Homo sapiens: one gene and its partners. The protein of the gene in region 3 interacts with the protein of the main gene of each other region in a pairwise test. Each region holds a gene or a part of one and is shown on either strand. Other genes may lie near its edges.

Region 1 (3,823 bases), on a different chromosome or scaffold from region 3:
CCAGTTCCTTCTGCAGGGCCTCACAGATGGTCCGGGCCTCTCCTAGGTCTTTATTGGCTTTCTTTTTTGCTTCACCAAAGAGCAGAAAAACATTGTGTGAGTGCAGCCTCTATTCTCTTCCCAACAGTGACATTTCTCATTTGCCTTCAGGTAAATCTATAGTGGCCTAGATTTTATAGAGTAGGAAACGAGGCTTCCAGCTCTCCTTGCCAGGCTCTGCTGATAGCAGGGCCAGGATCATGGGCATGTAACTATGGCAGTCGCATGCTGAAATGCCCTGTACTTAATTTAAGGCTCTGCTGTTGCTGTTGTGAATAACCAGTAACTTTGGAACAAGGGACCCTGCATTCTCACTTGGCACTGAGCCCCGCAAACCATGCAGCTGGTCCTAGCTGGCAGCCAAGGCCCCTGAACTCACCTTGCTGGACCTCATTAATCCGGTTAATCAGGACCTCAACTCGGGGCTCTAGGCTTCCCACTGCACGGAGGAAAGGAGGTTGAGTTGACAGGGCAGGCAGAGTTGGGGCGGTTGCCAGCCTTGTGTCTCTGCTGCTTTCACGCAACACAGATCTATTGAGTACCTCCTGCAAGCAGGTGCTCTGTGGGGCCCTCACGGGGCTCACGTTCTGGGTGGGCAAGACTGGGAACAGACACAATAAGATACCGAATGGGGCTGCGGTAACCGTGTTCAAGAGAAATGAAGTAGGCCAAGGGAGGCTAAAGAGCAAAGGAGTGGGAAGTGCTCCTGAGATATGGGAAGGGACCTGAGGGCCCCAAATCAAGTGGTGGGGGGCAGGCCCTGCAGCAATTTGGGTGGGGTTGGGAGGTAGTCAGTGCAAAGACCCATCATGAGGTGGGAACATGGCTGGCAGGAGCCTAGCGAGCAAAGAGGGAGTAGCGGGTGAGGGGGAAGGAAGGGAAGTGAAGGCGGCAACTTCTGGATCTAATGGACTGCAGTGGAGCCAGATGGGTGACCAGCGAGAGGTTTGGGACAGGGTTTTGGGAAAACATTTTGCCTTCTATACCCTTTTGCTTCTTTAATTTTGAAACATGGGGCCCTATTTTTAGTTTAAGTAATTAAGTTTTAAAAGAAAGAGAAGGTGAAGAGGATTATTTCCCAAATTCGTACATTGTGGGGCCTGAAATTAAACCCACATCTGCCTGGCCCCAAACCTCAGGCTGTGCCTCACACAAAGGAGACACACGACCTTTCTGCAGCTTTTGCACCATTTCCATCAAGTCTTCAATTTTCTGTGAGGACGTGTCCTGCCCTGTGGAGACAAAACCAAACATTTCAGAATCAAGCAGGGCGAGAGGCCACCCCTGGGCTGAGACTGAGGCAGGCTGAGGGCAGGTCTCCAGCCAGAGTGGTGCCCCTTCTTCTTGTCCTGAGGTGGACAGTACACTAGATGAATCGGGCTCCTCCATGGTCAGCTTTTCCCTATAAGGTAAAATTATACCAGATATCCTCTTTGTAAAACTCTGGGTGAGGGCAGGGGTGCACTCTCACTGCTGAGGCTGTTCAAAGTAAGATCAAAGCTCCTGATATAATTCAAGAAAAAAAATGAGGGTATAAAAAACTGGAGCAAGGAGTCAAAAATCACTGTAACTGGCAGATGACATAATCTAGGAAGTTCTTAGAGAGTTTTCTACAAAACCATAAGGATTAGTAACAAAATGCATTAAGATGTTAGGTTAAAAACATATATAAATACAAACAAGCTTTCCTACATACAACCAATACTAACCCTGAAATTTCCCCATAAAATATTTCATGTTAATTTTTTATAATCACTATTGGAACCTATTTTTAACACTAAAATTAGTAGATCTAAGAAATTACTATTTATGGCATTAACATTGTGAAAGGAAAATAAATCTTTTTATAAATAAATCTTTGAAAATAAATCAATTCAAAGTCATCCCTCTGCTCACTGAGATAAATGCATATCTGATTTTGTAAAATAAATATCTGAAAATAATTCAGTCATCCTTCTTCTTACTCAGATAAATGCATATCTGATTGCCTCCTTTGGAAAGGCTAATCGGAAACTCAAAAGAATACAACCATTTGTCTTTTATCTACTTATGACCTTGAAGCAAACCCCCCTGCTTCAAGTTGTCTCATCATTGCTTTGAGTTGTCCCACCTTTCCAGATCGAACCAATGTTCATCTTACATATGTTGATTTGTGTCTCATGTCTCCCTAAAAAGCATAAAACCAACCTGTGCTCTGACCACCCTGCCACCCTGGGCACAGGTCATCAGGACCTCCTGAGGCCGTGTCACAGGCATGCATCCCTAACTTTGGTAAAATAAACTTCCTAAATTGACTGAGACCTGTCTCAGATTTTTGGGTTTCACATTTTGGCAACCACAAAGGGATTCTGAGTAGAGGTGCCCCTGACCTTTGACAAATATCCTATCAGTGCTTGCTAGCAGCTTGAGCTATCTTTATGGTTCAAACTAATATGACAAGTTGCTGAGTTCTGGAAGTCCCCCATCCAGGGAATCCCTCATTTCCCAAAATTCGCTCCAGATCCAAAGTTTATTTTTCTAAACAACTCTACTCTTTTTTTGGAGTTTTTCTTGCTTCCAACAAGGAAGGCAAGTTTTCCTGCTTCCATGAAAGTTCCTTTCTGGAGTTTGAACTCGCTCCCAACAGGGAAGACAAGTTTGAGGGTTTTTTTCCTGCTTCTAAGATGATAGAGAGCAGTCTTCAGCCTAAGACCCATCCCTAGGTAAGTAACTGAATTGGGGTTTGTCTTGGCTAAAGGTAAAATTAACAACCAGCTGGTCTTAATTTTTCCTTATCATTAGAGTGTCCAGTAACCATACAAGTTGTGTGATCATTTGTTTGTTTTGCTTAACTGGTATTTTTTTTTGTTGTTGTTTCTTTCTGTTTTTGTTGTTTTGGTCCTTTTCCTATTGGGTTTGGCCAATTCTGACTTGATCAAATCCAAAGGAAAGTTCCAAATTATGTGGAACAAGGCCTCTGAAGTGGCTAAATTCCCACCAGAAAAGGGGTGGTGGGGGAAGAAAAAACAGCCAGCAAAAGGAAAAAAGGGGGGGAAGATTTTTGATTTTGACTACTTAAGGGGATTTATTTACATAACAAGGCCACCTTTTTGCTAGCCAGGCCAAACTGAAAGAGAAAGGATTGTCACCCCAACTGCAGTTCCATAGCTAAGGTTCTGTCTTCTTTTTTCCATGACAGCCTGGGTTTGGTTCCTAAATCAAGACCTTTCTGGTTTGATACTTGGTACTTCTGAAATAGCAGATATTTGTCCTAGCTGAAATATGTTGATGAGATCTTAAAAATTTTTTAAAAAGAAACTCAAATGGTTAAAAGTCATCTTAATTAAAAGCTAACATCCAATGTGTGTGTGTGTGTGTGTGTGTGTGTGTGTGTGTGTGTGTGTGTGTGTGTGTGTATTTAAAAGGGCTTCATGATTTTTCTTTTTTCTCTCTCCTAGGACCTTGTGTTTTTTGGGCAAAAGTTTTTTTTCTTTTCAGTTGACTGAATGCTATTTTCTTCATATAGTTCTGCTGTCTCTCCTTTCCCTTGAACGCTCTGCTGCATGAGGGACCTAAAATAGTTTATAATAGCCTGAGGTTCCTTAAAGAAAATGGAGAAGGCACCAGACTCCCTTTTGTGGAGAAAATTGTTTTTCCTTGTGTATCCCCAAGAGTGTAAACACACAAGTTCATGTCAGCTCCTAAACTGTTTGCTTTTGTATTGTGTTACCTGATTTTTTTGTTTATTAATTATTGCAACAGAAGCTACTCCTGCATTTTTAAGGAAGAGTATATTTTAGACACT
Region 2 (3,600 bases), on a different chromosome or scaffold from region 3:
GGTCCAGGCCGAGGGGAGGCAGTGAGGACATGCGGAGGTCGTCGGTGGTGTGGTAGGGCCGGAAGCTTCTCAGGTAGTCCTCGGTCACGGTACTGGGGGGCACCACGTGGTGCACGGGCCGCTGGAGGCTGCAGGCGGGGATAGTGGGCAAGGTGGGGACAGGTGAGTGCACACCTGCTCCTGCATGGGGGGACGGCTAAACTCCCTGCATCACCCCTGGCGCTCAGTCGGCACCCAGACTCCTGGCACCCCGAACGAGGACGGGGCTTAAGCAGCGGGGGGAGCGAGCTGCCACTGCCACCTCAGTGTGAAGGGGCACAGACAGGGCTGCAATCCCCAGGGCTCAGCGGCCGACAACCATCTAGCAGGCACAGCCTCATCTGTGCAGACCGCAGGCTGCCTGGGGACCCAGACCCTGAGCACTGTGTCCCCACCTGGCCACCTCACCGAAGTCCCCGCCGACCAACTTACTTGAGTGGCGGGAAGCGGGAATCCTGCACAACTGAGCTGGGGGAGAGGCCGAAGGGGTAGGGGGTGCTGAGCAGGTGCGAGGGGATGGCTGGTCCCCCTGCCTTCTCCTGAGGGAGCGGGGGCTCCACAATGAGGCGTTCCCGACCTCCACTGCTGCTCCTGGAGCCGGCATCCTGCGGGAGGAGAGCGTCCAGTCAGGGCAGGAGCCTGGTATAGGCCACTGACCACAGGACACAGCCAGGTCTCCTGACTCACGGGAAGGCGCTAGATTTAGTTCATGTTCTAGAAACATCCTTTCCCTAAGGCTTTCTACGCAAAACATGGTGCATGTGGTGTGGGAAGCAGAACCGTAAGAAAGGGGATGTGGCTGCGACAGGTCTGGGGTGAAGTGCGTCTCGGGATCCGTCTCCCTCCCTGGGCCTCCTCAGTCCAGCAAAAGAACTAGAACCCCCCAGAAACACAATGTGTGCAGGTGAAGGATGCAGGGTGGCAGGGGCTCCTGCCTCCACCCCTCCTGGTGTGGACATCCGAAGGTCACACCAGACACACACCCGGGGAAGCAGACACCGTTGGCACCCAGCACGCCGTGAAGCGAGTGCCACGATGTAGCCAAGACGTCAACTGCGCCGACAGCTGCCCACCTGGCCGCAGATGTCCTGGCCCTGGTGCCCACGTGGAGGGCAGGGGCAAAGGAAGCTGGCACTGCCCCTGGGCCGAAGGTGCTGGTCTGCCCCCAACCACCTCCTGGGGTGGCCCTGGCCCTGGAGCCCACCAGAACAGGCAGCAGCTGGGCCCTGACTGGCCAGCTGGGGTACCGGCCTTCACACACACGGTGGGGCAGGGAAGGCAACAGCTCGCCTGTCCCAGGCTCCTGGACACAGTGGACCTGGGTGTAGCTGGGAAGGTGGTCCAGAGGACTCAGATGAGGGGTCTTCTCCAGGCACAAAGCAGGAGGAGGCAGTGGCCCAAAGCCCACCTTCCGGGCTGAGGTCCCTGCCAAGTTCAAGGATAGGCCGTGCCACCCCTAGCCACGCAGAGGCTGCCCCGCACACACGCAGGGTCCAGCCCGGAGAAACCAGAGCATGAAAAGGCCTTGCTTGTTCCTGTTATTCGTGTGACTAAGTGGGAGGAGGAGGAGGAGGGGGTAGGAGGAGGAGGAGGGGGTAGGAGGAGGAGGAGGAGGAGGAGGGGGTAGGAGGAGGAGGAGGAGGAGGGGGGAGGAGGAGGAGGAGGGGGAGGGGGGAGGAGGGGGGAGGAGGGGGGCGGAGGGAGCCTCAGGGCGGCCCAGATGGGGGCTGTGCTCTGGACTCTGGATGGCTGCCAACCCAGGCGTCACTCTGTCACTGGGGCAGCCGTTCTCAGCCCCAGCATCTTCCCCATGTGGGGACAGCACTGCCCAGGCCTACCCTGACCTGGGGGTGTCTGAGAGCCATGGCCACGCTGGCCCCTCTGAGCTTCCCAGGGATGCAGAGCCACGGGAACCCGGCCCTTCCTCACGTTCCATCTGGCCATGTCAGGTAACGACTGCTGATCAGCGGGCAGTGCTCCTGAAGAGCACCAGCCCCGCTCTGCCTCCCTGAGCCACGAAATGCCAAACACCCAAAAAACAAGGAGGCCATGGCCGTCTCCCCACAAGATCAGCAGGAATGATGGCCCAGGGGCTCTGAGACCTGCCCCACCGTGGAGAAGCATCTGTCTCCCAGGGGCCGTGCCTGTGTCCCTGACCCGCCAGCCCCTCTTCCTGGGCCCATCCATCTTCATAGCGGCAGACGGTGACCCGGCAGCAGCACATGGCACCCGCGCAGAGGCAGTGCAGGCAGCCCGGGCCGGCGCCTCCCCTCTCTCCACCCTCCAGGAGACAGTCAGCGAGGATTAACTGGAGGAGCCGCCGCCGCCGCCGCCGCCTGGAATCTTCAATGAGAGGCAGCATCTGCTCCCTTCCCGCGGGCTGAGCCCCGGCCCCCCTTCTCTGTAGGGTCCTCCTGGGTTCACGACTTCTGACCTGCCTCTCCAGGGTGCTGGTCTCGAGGGTGGGAGGTACACATGGGCACTGACGCCCTGCGTGGGGCCGGGAACTTCCTATTGAGGAGCCAGCGCCTGGCCTTGGGGTCTCCAGCCGGTGTCAGCAACCGGGGTAGTGGGGGAGTGGCCGAGGGGCCAACCTGACCTTGGGAGACCTGGCCATCCTGTCGTGCCTCGTGCACACATCAATGGCATGTGCCCGTCACGGCACCTGCTCAGAGGACAGCAGAGTTGATGGCACGGCTATGAACGGGCATGCGGGGGACTCACAGGGCAGCAGAGTTGATGGCACAGCTGTGCACGGGCATGTGGGGGACGCACCAGCAGGGTGGGGGCCCGGACATGGCAGGTGTGTTGCCAGGCTGGCCTGCCTACCCCAGCCCCGTGAGGCTATTTCCAGGCTGGGCTTCTAGATCCTGCCTCACGCCCCTACCCTGCCTGGCATAGGGCCAAACATCTGAGGAACGGAGCACGAGGAAGGACACACCCTGTTCCTAGGGTCTGGGATGGACTTAACAAGACGGAGTGGCCCCTGGCCCCCCAGCATCCAAGTAGCACCCCAATGAACACCAGGCCTAAAGCTAGTGGGTCTCTGGATGCCCAGAACAGGGGCCTCGCCTGCTCAGGCACCCGGGGTACCTGGACTCCCCCTCCCAGGCTGGTGGGGAGGCCTCCAGGGCAGGAGGGAGACGACAGCCAGGGGCTTCAATCATCACCCAGCCTTGGGTGGCCAGAGTCAGAAGAGGGCTGGAGGACAGACCTCGACCTGAGGACAGCACCCAGGGTCAAACTACCAACAGCCCAGGCCTGCCGCCCTCCTCCGCATGCTGCCCGCGCCGTGGGCCGGGTCAAACGGCAAAGCACAGGGCCCCAGCCGCCCCGCCACAAGGAGGGGCCTGTCCCCAGCCCAGACACGGCCCTTGAACCCCTTCTCCCCTCAGCCGAGGACAAAGCCCTGCTCGCAGGCCAGATGGCACCTTCCTGGCCTGGCTGAGGACAAACAGGGAGTCCGGGGGGCTGGGGGGCAGCCAGCAGGCGGGGCAGGGGCCCGGCGAGCCAGACCCACATGTCTGTGGCTTCCGTCTGGCTGGCGCCCGGCCAACCCTG
Region 3 (3,823 bases):
GAGTGCAGTGGCACAATCTCAGCTCACTGCAACCTCCACCTCACGGGTTCAAGCGATTTTCCTGCCTCAGCCTCCCCGGTAAGCTGGGATTACAGGCGTGTGCCACCATACCTGGCTGATTTTTTTGTATTTTCAGTAGAGACGGAGTTTCACCATGTTGGCCAGGCTGGGCTCGAACTGCTGACCTCAAATGATCTACCCACCTCAGCCTCCCAAAGTGCTGCGATTACAGGCGTGAGCCACCATGCCCGGCTAAAACATCTTATATTCTTTATTTTCAACTTACTTTGACATATTTTAACAGACGCAATGGAATGAATGAGGACCATGAGGGAAGTGGGAGCACCACAGTAGTAAAGCTGGGTTGAGGTTGAAAGCCCTCACTCCAGAAACAAATACCTGGACACAGCCAGCATTTAAGTATGGATGTTCATATGCTAGGAGGCCAGGGCATTAGGTTGGCTGAAAAGCTACTACAAGAAATTATTTCCTACCTAAAACTTACTCTTACAACACACTTGACTCTTCTATGATACAACCATCTCTATTATATTATAGTAATATTAAGTATCAATGTAATATTTACCAGATCCTGAAATCCTAATGATCAAACTAAAATCTGAGAAACATTTTGCTTTCAAAGCGTAATCAATGAGTAACAGAAGAATCTTTATTTTTTAGAGATAAAATCTTGCTCTGTCACCCAGAGAGGAGTACAGTGGCATGATCATAGCTCACTGCTGGGCTCAAGCAATCCTCCTACCTCAGCCTCCGAAGTAACTGGGACTACACATACATGCTACCACACCCAGCTAATTTTTAATTTTTATGTAGAGACAGGGTCTTGCTATGTTGCCTAGGCTGAACTCCTGGCCTCTCGCTATCCTCCTGCCACAGCCTCCTAAAGTGCTCGCATTAAAGGTGTGAGCCACCGCGCCTGACTGAAACGCTCTTTAGTAAATGAAAACACTCTCTAATAACAGTGACAGTGATTTATGGTGACTCAGAATACTGGCCAAAAAGAGGGCTTAAGATAATAAATATAACCTATCATCTCCCTTTTTATTGGCCTGAGTAAAATATCATTAACTGCAATTAAAAGAAAACATATACTCTATGACAGCACCAACTGAGCAGCAATAAAGGAAAGCCAAGTATGTATGTCGTAAAAAGATACCAATTAACACACTACCCAATTCCCTGAAGTTCCTTTTCAGATTCAGAGCCTATAACATGTCTCTCTAGGATCCATCCTTATGAATGAAATCCTCAGGCTAAATCTTTGACCAAACAATTAATGACAGGTCCCTTTGTGCCTGAGTTTGATGTGTGTCTGTGATCTAACGAAGCAATAATGCTATTGATTAAATAACTGGGATCTCTAAAATTCTACACACGAACTCTATAACTGTAGATGCCATGGGCTCCTCCTCCCCTAATGAAGGATCCTTGTCATCAGGTCTTGTTTATAAACCCACATCAAAGACTGTACCGCATTCAAATTACATCACTACAAGCTAAAGGGCAAGTATGTTATCTTATACATTGACACTGTCCAAATTATGAAAGGAAAAGACCCGTATTCAAGCTAATCCATTACCTATCTCCTCAAGTTCACTGCTTTACATGTGACTCAGCAATAGAAAATTACCCCAGTTCCCCAATGTCAGTACCAGAGGGTATATGTGTAGAGAAGACCATGTACCTGCACAGTTGGGCTGAGCACTATAGAAATGTTCTGTATATTCATTTTTGTTTCCAGTTCCTTTGCAATGACATGGTCCATGTGCACAATGAGCCAAGAAATCAGAAGATAGTTACATTCTGGCAGTTCTTTGAGTAAACGCTGGAATTCCTGCACTTTCTCAGTCTCCGTGGTCCTCCCACAAGCCTCTTCAAATCTGGGCATAAGCTCTTTGGTAAGCAAATTCTCTGGAAGGTCTCGCAAATACTGCTTCAGCAAACTGGCTACAGTGTTAGGCTCATAGTCTTCCAAGTTTGTAGACTCCTCCCGGTCATAGGCTGCTTTTAGCTCATCCACCTTTGATTTAATTCCTTAAAACATTCAAATTCAGAAGAGAGAAGATACTGAGAAAAGAAAATCAAACACACAAGTTTTCTTTACCATTATCCCCACCCTTGCTAAGGAGATGAGAACAGCAACCTGACCAATAACGAACCTCTTGTTATGAAATATTTATCTGCACAAAGGTCGTACAGTTCCTCTGTAAACACTAACATGTAAGACTACACTTGGCTGGGCGCAGTGGCTCACACCCATAATCCCAGCACTTTGGAAGGCTGAGGCGGGCAGATAGCTTGAGCCCAGGAATTCGAGACTAGCTGGACAACATGGTCAAAACCTATCTCTACAAAAAATACAAAAATTAGCTGGGCATGGTGGCGTGCGCCTGTGGTCCAAGTTCTTTGGGAGGCTGAGTTGGGAGGATCACTTGATCCTGGGAGGTTGAGTCTGCAGTGAGCCATAATTGCACCACTGGACTCCAGCCTGGGCAACAGAGTAAGACACTGTCTCAAAAAATAAAAAAAATAATTAAAAACAGGCCAGGCACCATGGATCACACCTGTAATCCCAGCACTTTGGGAGGCCAAGGCAGGAGGATTATTTGAGGTCAGGAGTCCAACACCAGCCTGGCTAACATGGCAAAAACCTGTCTCTACTAAAAATACAAAAATTAGCCAGGCGTGGTGGTGTGCGCCTGTAATCCCAGCTACTTGGGAGGCTGAGGCAGGAGAATCACTTGAACCTGGGAGGCAGAGGTTGCAGTGAGCCGAGATCACACCACTGCACTTCAGCTTGGGTGACAGAGCAAGACTCCATCTAAAAACAAAAAACAAAAAACAAACCCAAAAAACTAACTTCAAAAGTGAATTTAACCAAAAGTTAAATGATAATTGAAAAGCTCAACAGTCAGAAGTCAAAGCAACCATGGATATATTAAGCAAATATGCCCATTAATTCAGGAATTTGTTTTTAATGTAAAAACATTACACAGTGGCGCACACCTGTAATCCCAGTACTTTGGGAGGCCGAGGTAGGTGGATCACCTGAGGTAGGGAGTTCAAGACCAGCCTGGCCAACATGGTGAAACCCTGTCTCTACTAAAAATACAAAAATTAGCTGGGCATTGTGGCGGGTGCCTGTACTCCCAGCTACTCAGGAGGCTGAGGCAGGAGAATCGCTTGAACCCAGGAGGTGGAGGTTGCAGTGAGCCGAGGTCACACTACTGTATTCCAGCCTGGGTGAAAAGTGAAACTCTGTCTCAAAAAAATAAAAAAAAAGGTAAAAAGACAAAAATTAAACTACAATCCAAGTGTAAGTCTGGCTCTACACAGGCAGCCAGCTGCTTTTTCTAACAAGTCACAAGACTGACCACAAAAAAATGTGGCTTGGTGTACCTAAGTATGTTCCAAAAAGTTGTGGGTAAATTACTTTTTTATGTGTAAATATTGTACTGTAATTGCAAAGGGTGAATTAGCTACCCAAACAAACACTTTGAAAATTATTCTCCATTAAATCATCCCCATCTAATTTCTATTTTAAAGTTTGGATTATTTTAAGTATAACCTTAATCTGAACAGAGCTGGAACAAAAAAAATAAAGTATGGGTTTCTAAAATCGTTTTGCTTATTGAACAAAAGGAAACTAAAGCAAATGATTTGCAAACATTACATAAGATTTTAAGTCTTTAGTACAATCTGCATTAAGTGACGTAATTTAGTGGCGATTGCTCAGAAGAACACAAAGTAGTTTTTTGCTGTTTTTAATACTTAACACTTTCAGCCAATTATGTGAAACAAG

Evidence for each region.
Region 1: the proteins of RALBP1 (region 3) and SYCE1 interact in binary tests that used the Homo sapiens proteins (3 or more experiments, as listed by UniProt).
Region 2: the proteins of RALBP1 (region 3) and GSE1 interact in binary tests that used the Homo sapiens proteins (3 or more experiments, as listed by UniProt).

The regions. Positions count from the first base shown.
Region 1 is NC_000010.11:133,558,883-133,562,705, forward strand, and holds part of SYCE1 (synaptonemal complex central element protein 1), read right to left. Parts: intron 1,272-3,823; coding exon 1,209-1,271; intron 479-1,208; coding exon 419-478; intron 70-418; coding exon 1-69. UniProt on the Homo sapiens protein: Major component of the transverse central element of synaptonemal complexes (SCS), formed between homologous chromosomes during meiotic prophase. Requires SYCP1 in order to be incorporated into the central element.
Region 2 is NC_000016.10:85,651,322-85,654,921, reverse strand, and holds part of GSE1 (genetic suppressor element 1), read right to left. Parts: intron 645-3,600; coding exon 472-644; intron 129-471; coding exon 1-128.
Region 3 is NC_000018.10:9,520,392-9,524,214, reverse strand, and holds part of RALBP1 (ralA-binding protein 1), read right to left. Parts: intron 2,056-3,823; coding exon 1,706-2,055; intron 1-1,705. UniProt on the Homo sapiens protein: Multifunctional protein that functions as a downstream effector of RALA and RALB. As a GTPase-activating protein/GAP can inactivate CDC42 and RAC1 by stimulating their GTPase activity.